Regions from separate parts of the Homo sapiens genome. Here regions 2 and 3 are each linked to region 1. The links come from fine-mapping of genetic effects on gene expression. A gene starts in region 1. Each other region holds a variant in brackets. All regions are shown on one strand. Distances are from middle to middle.

Evidence for each region.
Region 2: its variant is fine-mapped to the expression of BCL6 in whole blood (TOPMed, PIP above 0.99).
Region 3: its variant is fine-mapped to the expression of BCL6 in whole blood (TOPMed, PIP above 0.99).

What each region holds. Positions count from the first base shown.
Region 1 is chr3:187,743,833-187,746,594 of GRCh38, reverse strand. It overlaps BCL6 (BCL6 transcription repressor), which reads left to right and starts at 1,127. Exons shown (of 10, transcript NM_001706.5): 1 at 1,127-1,185. It overlaps BCL6-AS1 (BCL6 antisense RNA 1), which reads right to left. Exons shown (of 2, transcript NR_173091.1): 1 at 2,551-2,762; 2 at 569-1,351. RefSeq lists an enhancer at 1,489-2,014.
Region 2 is chr3:187,962,683-187,965,444 of GRCh38, reverse strand. All of the region lies in intron 2 of LINC01991 (long intergenic non-protein coding RNA 1991), which reads left to right. Among named protein-coding and RNA genes, the nearest start is that of LINC01991, 12 kb to the left of the region's middle. The variant G/A (reference allele first, on the strand shown) is at 1,521.
Region 3 is chr3:187,849,344-187,852,105 of GRCh38, reverse strand. All of the region lies in intron 2 of LOC105374264 (a long non-coding RNA gene), which reads left to right. Among named protein-coding and RNA genes, the nearest start is that of BCL6, 110 kb to the right of the region's middle. The variant G/T (reference allele first, on the strand shown) is at 1,735.

The sequences.
Region 1 (2,762 bases):
CGTTTCTTGCAACAAGAAATTTCCCAAGAGTCAACAATAACAGATTAAACCCACCACTTGCTGTCCTGGAAAGAAACAAACCAAACCAAAACAAATCCTTTGAACATTTCTCTGAAGTGCAGGAGAGACACACTTCAGCAAAAGTCCAAGGGGGAAAAAGAAAATTGCACCAAAGGAAAAAAAAAAAAAAAAAGTGGGGGCTGGGATTGTTACATATGGCCAAAAATTTAAGCTTCTTTCAATAGTATTAGTATTGAAATAATACATCTTTAAAACGCTTGAGGGATTAGATAGGGAAAGAAAAGGCACGTACAAAAAAATCCAACCGATGCCGATCCTGTGATTTACGTAACACCACAAACTTGCAAAAGGCAAAAAATCAGAAGCAAAAATCCATAAACCATCAAAATACAGAAACCAAAAATCCCAAGCCACCACACCAGAAAGAAAAAAACCCAGAACAACAGCAAAAACCCCTGTCCTAAATAAAAATAAAGCAAATGAACCCACCGAAAACTGCTTGGCAAATATTTTTCTCGTGGTGCCTAATATTCTAGTTGGAAAGAGCTGTGATGTTTATTTTATTTTATTTTTCTCTTACTCGCCTCTCTAACCCTACTATATATATAACATACTTTTCCCAGTGGTTCAAACCTCTCGCTCCCTTTTGTGCATTTAGCTCGATCTGCTGAGTTTATGGGTAAGAAAGAAGGAATTAGCCCCAGACCCCGGGAAAGCAAAGCGCACTCCCCCTCTTATGTCACCGAATAGCAAATTAGTTCTCAGAATTCCAGAGGCCGAGCTTTGCTACAGCGAAGGCGCCGACGTCACAGAGGAGGAGCCCACGTGATGGTGGCGGAGCAGGCCATACCATCGTCTTGGGCCCGGGGAGGGAGAGCCACCTTCAGGCCCCTCGAGCCTCGAACCGGAACCTCCAAATCCGAGACGCTCTGCTTATGAGGACCTCGAAATATGCCGGCCAGTGAAAAAATCTTGTGGCTTTGAGGGCTTTTGGTTGGCCAGGGGCAGTAAAAATCTCGGAGAGCTGACACCAAGTCCTCCCCTGCCACGTAGCAGTGGTAAAGTCCGAAGCTCAAATTCCGAGAATTGAGCTCTGTTGATTCTTAGAACTGGGGTTCTTAGAAGTGGTGATGCAAGAAGTTTCTAGGAAAGGCCGGACACCAGGTGATTATTGCTGTTGCTGCCGCCGCTGCTGCTGCTACTGCCGCCGCCGCCGCTGTTGCCGCTGGTGCCGCTGCCGCCGCCGCTGCTCATGATCATTATTTTACCTTTTAATTCTTTTTTTTTCCGCTCTTGCCAAATGCTTTGGCTCCAAGTTTTCTATGTGTATCTATTGATATAAATGTATATATTTATTTATTCTAGCTGTCAGGTGTTAAAATAAATGCCGAAGATTAGTCCCACGTCTCTCCCACCATAGGATATAGATTGTTATGTATTTATTATTATTATTGTTGTCTTTGAGTGAATCGGCCGGTTTGGGGAGGCTTTTGCCACCCTCCCTTGTGTTGTTTTGGTTTTTGGAAAGGAGGTGGAGGAGAGGAAGGAGGGGAATTAGGGGGCGGCCGGAGCAGAGAGGACGAGACAGTGCTTGGGGGGTGATTCGGGCTAGTCTGGGGGCTGTCTGGCCCCAGACCGCGGAGAGGACGCGCGCTCGCGCTCTCGCTCTTTCTGCTGCTGCTTGCGTACGGCTTGTGATCTCTCTGGATTCGTGCGGCTGTGTTTTTTCCCTCTTTTCTCGCTTGCAAACTGCTTTCCTTGCTCCGTCGCTCCTGGCCTCCGCTTCCCTCCCTCCTCTTTTTCCTCGCCTCTTCTTCCTTCCCTTCCCCTGTCCTTCTGGGTAACTCCGGGAGGCAAAAAGGGAGGCTGCCCGCTCGCTCGCCCCGCTGGCTCTCTTCCATCGGCCTCGGTCTTTTAGATTCCCTGCCTTCGAGCCGAACCGAGATTTGGAAGGAAAAAATGCAAGCGAACTCTTTGGGTTTTTGTTTTTGTTTTTTTGGTCATAAATCCAGATGAGATGAAGTATCGTGTCTACTATTTCCTTTCAGAGCCGTGATCTTCCTAATGAGAGCCGAGTGTTTTGGTGTTCCCTGCCCCTGTGTTTTGGGGAGCTTGGGGGCGGGGATGTTGAACACTTTGAAAATTATTCTTTCTTGGTTGTAGTCGAGGGAGTCGGGAACCTCCGCGCGCTCTCCCTGCTCATCCCGAGGAGAGAGACTGATGGCGGGACAGGGCTTCTTGGGGTGGGTGGGAAAGGGGTGCGCACTGCACCTGCGATGCCTTTCAGTGTGCGGGGGGACTCAGGGAACCTCGACAGGACAGCCTGGGAGAACGAGAAAGGTGGCGGGATTTCTGGCCGCTGCGGTGTTTGTATTTTGGGCGCTGCGTGACTCTGTGTTGGCTCCCAATGGCTGTTGCCTCCCTTTCCTAAATTTTATTTTATTTTTTCCCATGGTGCAAGCTCTGTAAAAAGGGAACTGCGGGCCTGAGCGTAGTGGACGCCAGGCTTCAGATTCCCGAGGTCCTTACCTTGGGCGAGGAGAAAGACGAACAGAGCCCCAGCCCGCGTTCCTTATGTGCAAGACTCAGGAGGAGAGAAGGGCACTTTGTGGCCGTGGCTGAGGGGACCCGGCGCGGGAGGAGCGGGCGCGGGCGCGAAAGGGAGATCTTTGTGAGTGATTTTGCAAAAATAGATTGCGAGGTTGGTTGGATTTGCAACCTGTGGCTCTCCTCGAGGGAGT
Region 2 (2,762 bases), 220 kb before region 1:
GAAGGTCTTTATGGGTACGGCATGACTGCTGGAGAGTTTTGTCACCGCTGCTTAAGGAAGAGCTTCCCAATGTTGGATATGTCTGTAACTTCATAATTTTTTTTTAATTTTGCGCTTTTGTGAATTTCCTCAATTGGCTTTCTTATTGGCCCCCAGGATCACACAGAACACTTCAAACTCCTCTTACGTGTTCTTGATTTCATCATTTAGCTGAAGATGCAGGCCCTGTCTTTCTTTCTGAGTTTTCCTTAGCACCCTCCTTTTAAATTACCTTTTTCATTGGTTAAATGCCATGAAACTTCATCAATTCTAGTTTTAGCTATCACTTGACCCAAAGACAAGAGAGTTGAATCCTGGACCTTAAAGAAAAAGAAAAAAGGAAAAAAAGCTTGTGGGAACCTTATTTACCTCAACTGGGGAAATTTTTTGCTCTTGCGCAAAGGTCAGGTCCCGTGAAACTTGTGAAATAGGTGTTTTTATCTCTTTTCTTTTCCAACTGATCAGATAGATATCTTTCCAGGAATTTGGTGTCAGAAATCAAATTCAATGAGTGGGAAGTTTGACAAGATTCAGGATAGTCTTGCCAAATAGCACAAGAGAGGAGGTAAAGTTAGGTCAGGTCAAGGGGGCAGCAAAAATGAAGTTTATAACAGATATACTGTATATTTGTCATGGGAAAGGGCTTCAGTCAATAGCAATTGATATTAATAAAACATAAAAGAAATGACAATAAACAATCAGGATAACTTTGAAACAACTTCTTTTTATGTAGGTAACATTAAAGAAAATTAAAGAAAAGGAATCGCTTTATTTTATAAAATAAATGCACTACTATTTGCAAAAAAAAATTTACCTAAAAATGCTGCTACTGAACAAACAAAACTACCCAAAATTAGAGAACAAAAGCATAAAAATTGTTAACAAATAAAAAAACTATATTTTTGAAAAGTCTTAGATGATACACAAAAAATGCAGATTTGTATAAATACACCATCGCCCTGGGATGACCTCTTATCATTGTCTAAGCAAGTTGTAGTGCCACGGTGTGTTTCAGACTATGCTATAGAAAATCTTTAGCACTCACCTTAAAAGTTTAAAGTAGAAAGAACAACCTTTAACAGGATCATAGAAAATGTTCCATCAGATCAAAACAAACAAGCAAACAAACTGAAGCAGGTCATTTTTCTCTTTTTGGCACTGTGCAGGACCATATGCTTCCAGAGATGGGAATTTAAAAATAGCCTGTCACACAGCTCACATTGTAATGCTGGGACATGATGCGGGTGGGAAAGATTGCCTCACACTTAATAATAGTGACACTTCACATTTACACCAACCTCTTTGCAGAGTAACCAAGAGTATTTCTCAGTTCTTTTTTTCCTTTAAAAATAATATGATCTTCTTGATACCCTGTAAGTGGAACAGGAGGGAGTACAATTCTTCCCACCTTACAGAGAAGGCGATTGAGGCCTCCAAAGGTAAAGTGACTCACTCAGGATTACAGAGTTACCCAGGGATCA[G/A]CACTGTGCTGTTCAAAATACACCAGGCTGCCAACTGCAGCAATATCCTGGGCCTGTGAGAACCGTGGGTTCATAGGATGTTGCACAAAAAAGAGAGAAATTTGCTTCCCATTGCCTCTGTTTTGAAATGTACTGCCTTTCATCTTGAGCATTTCATAAGTTTCTAATTTTAAGGCAAATTGCTTATAAGCCATGGTGACCTATATTAGCTGACATTTGAAATCAATCTCACACCAGTAAATGCCTTAGATTTGCATTTGGTACCCCCTTGCCGAGTCATAATAACAATGTAATTTCTCACATCTCCATAATTCTTTACACTTGAAAATGGTTGTACATTCACCATCTCATCAGATCTGTATAAGCAGCTATAATTTAAGCCAGGCCAGAGTTATGATGAGAGGGAACAGAGGCTCAGGATATGAAAAAAACTTTCTCATTTGGTAAAAGCCACAGAAACTGATGAAACCCAGGTCTTCTCTCTGCATGTGTAGGGTATTTTCCTGCCAGCCACACAGCCTTTTAGGTCTAAATAAAGTGTTGAGACTCCACTGCAAGTGTGTGTGCGCTCAGGAGTGACTCTTCTACCCAGTTTGGTGCCCAGCACTCAGTTCCTAATTGGCTGCAAAACCCTGAAGGGGGATTCTAGATGTGGCGGGCACCAGGTGAAGTCAGTAGTGAGCTTCCTTTTTGGAGGGAAGGAAAATTCTTGGCATACCGATGGGTCCAGGCAGACACTTTGGATATGTGTGGAGCCCAGTGATGTTGTGTTACTGGGTAGCCTTAAACCTTATTCCAACCTTGACTCCTTCTACTCTGTGCCATAAACTCTCTCCTTCCAATACCCCCCATTCCTCTGCTGCCTTCCCCTTTATCGTACCTGGCAAAACTGCAATCCTGGTGAAATGTATATCCTCTAATTCCTCCTTTGCTTGCATCCAAACAGTGGAATGTTGTTAAGAACATTGTAAACCATGCTGATCAGTTCACTTTAAATTTGTGATCACAAACCTGAAACGGACCGTGCCAGAGGATCCTATGATACATTTAGCAAATTCACTTTTTGGTTTCTGGGTCAACTCTTTCAAACCTTTAGCTCCCTACTTGAATATCCACTATGCTCTACACATCCCATGCCCTGGGATTATGACCTTCCTTTTTGCTATCAGAGGAGAGTTATTGCATTTTTCCTTAACCCACCTGCATCTGTGCCCACATACACTACCTCCCTCTTATTATAGT
Region 3 (2,762 bases), 110 kb before region 1:
GATATAAAAATTCAGCCTGTTGTCACAACAAAGATTTGCTTAATTTCATGTGGCCCTGACAGTATAAGCTCTGTCTGCTGGAAGGGATAGTGAGACCACTTGCACTCCTATCCATTGGAGTGTATCCAGGGCCAAAAGAGGACAAAGTATGATTTGATTGGAAGTGAGAGTAAATGGGCACAACAAGAAGTATCACTGCATATGAAAAATAATTTGAGAGACCCTTGTCTGCCTTAGTTCATATAAATTATTGATATTAACCATAATAAAATATCCATGTTTACTTTCATATTAAAAGAGCATCTGGCATAGAGCATTGCTCAATACTTATTGGTTGAGGAAGTGAATTCATTTTTGAATGAAAAATAATGCCTTAAAGTGTTTGCCACCAGGTAAAATTGATGTTCTAGGAAGATTCATCATACTTAACTGTGGCCTTCGGTACCTTGCTGCACAACCCCTCACTCCTACCCTGAAGAGTGTGAACCCCACAGAGATTCATTCTTTTATTGTGCAGATGACAGATCTAGACTGGCAGATGTAAAGTTGTAAATGCTGAGTTGGTCTAAAACCCAGGTCTCCTGAGTCTCAGCCCAGGACCATACCACTGAACCACACTGCTTTGTCCTTAGGTTTCCAGACCTTCGGGCTTTCAGCTTCTCTGTATCATCTGCTTTTTTGGTTCCTCCATACACAATACTTGGAGGTTAGAATTGAAGAGCTTTCTGTGCTTTGCTGGGGCCGTGTTTCACAATTTTGACAAATATTCAGCTTGCCCATGTTAGTTTTCAGAATCCTCAGCGTTAACTGTTTGAAGAATATGGTTTGTGAAGGACTTTATGACTGTTTTGATTATTTCTTCCGTGTATATCTCCAAACTATTTGAGTAAAAACATTTTTGTGCTTGGGAGAAAAATACTAAGCCTTGCCTTGTTTCTAAGGAGAGGAAACCGAGGTCCAGGGTGAAGAAATTTTCTCAGTTAGATGTAGTCCCTGGAATGACAGCCTGAGTTCCTGTATTTCATCCTTTTTAGGGACCTATAGCACACTAGTTTTCTGGCTTGGACACAATCTTCCCTGAAACCCAATCTGGGAAACCTTCCAAGCAGAGACACCCAATTTTGCCAACCTTGCTGCCACCTTCCCCAAGATACTCATTTCCCAGCATACCAAACGTTTCCTCTTTCTTCCTTCCCCCACCCCTCTCCTCCTTCCCCTAGATCTCTTCCTCTGCCCAACATTTCCCTGGCTGTCAGAACTTGTTTCTTGTCAATTGCTTCTCCCTAAGCCTAGATACACCCAATGTGGTGTCCTTGACAAAACACTGTGTGGGGGTGATGCAACAGCCCAAGGTGTCAAAATAATTAGGTAATTAAAGCAGGGGAAGGTCAGGGTTTCTTCTGTTTGGAAAGACAAATACACACACAAAGAGAAAAGCAGAACAAGGAAGCCAATTTCACATCTCCTTTGTTTCTCCCTTGCTCCTTGACCCAATGTGAAAGCTTAGTGCCTATGATCAATTCTCTCAGAGTACTGGAATAAGAACCCACCTGACCTAGTATGCTTGGCAAGTTTGAACACCAAGGAATAGAACGTTTAAAGGTTTCAACACACCCTTGTTGTTGTCTTGCCTGTTTGTTTTCACACCAGCCCCACCCTGAGCTTCTACTGGTGCAATGGCCCCAGATGGTGGCTCAATGCCATGGATGGGATATTGCTCAAAGGAGTCTGTGG[G/T]TACGAAAGGCGGAGTCTCCTCCCAGGAAACCAAGCCTCAAGGTCATCTTCTCTTGGCTTTTATTTGTTTATTCGCTCAACATTCCACAGTTATTAAGAGCCTGCTATGTTTTAGGGATTGTGCTTGGAACATAGGATGGGGCTGAGAGGAAGCAGAGAGCAATATGAAATAGCCCCTGTCTGTCCGGGAGGAGCTTACTGTCTAGTGAGAAAGTGGCCATATGGGCAAATATCATAGTTTTGCTGGGATGACAAGTCTCTAACTGAGGTCCGAACAAAGTTCTAGAGATCTCAGAGAAGGAAGTGACCAACTCCCTGGAGGACTCTAGGAACAAGTGACAAAGGAGGTGACATTTGAATTATAACTTTAAGGATGAGTGAGGTTTCTCCAGACAAGAGGAGCAAAGAGGTCATTCTAGGCAGAGGAAGAGCATATTCAAAGGCAGGAAGGATGAAAGAGCATATTGCTTTCTGAGAATGTGGAGTTCATTGATACTAAAATTGGGGCTATGCTGGGGTAGGTGGGAATGAAGAGATATGGCTGAATATGTTGATAGGGGCAAAATCAAGGGTGTCCTTAACAAGATGCCTGGAATATGGCCTGCCCTGATGGCATCAGGGCACCACTGGAGATTCTGGGGCACAGGAGATGAGAGTAAATCTATAAGGCAGTGGCGGCAGCAACACTTCCTCCAGTTGTCTTCCTGCTGGGGACACACTCTCAGGTCTCCTCTCCTCAACCATCAGTTCTACTTTTCTCAGCCATTAAATAAGGTAGCTTTCAGCATCAGCCTCTTCCCAGGAAGAGCACACACTCAGATGACTGACTCCGGGGACCCAGAGACTCTCCCACCCACAGCTCAGCCATCCAAGTGAAGTGGAACTGTAGAGTGGTTACACAAAGGGCTTTGGCTTCAGAGTCCCGGTTTTGACTGGCTTCAGACACCCCTGGTTTGAACCTTGCCTCTGCCTGTTATCAGCAATGTTATATTGAGCCAGTGACTGAACTCCTCCAAAGCCTCAGTTTG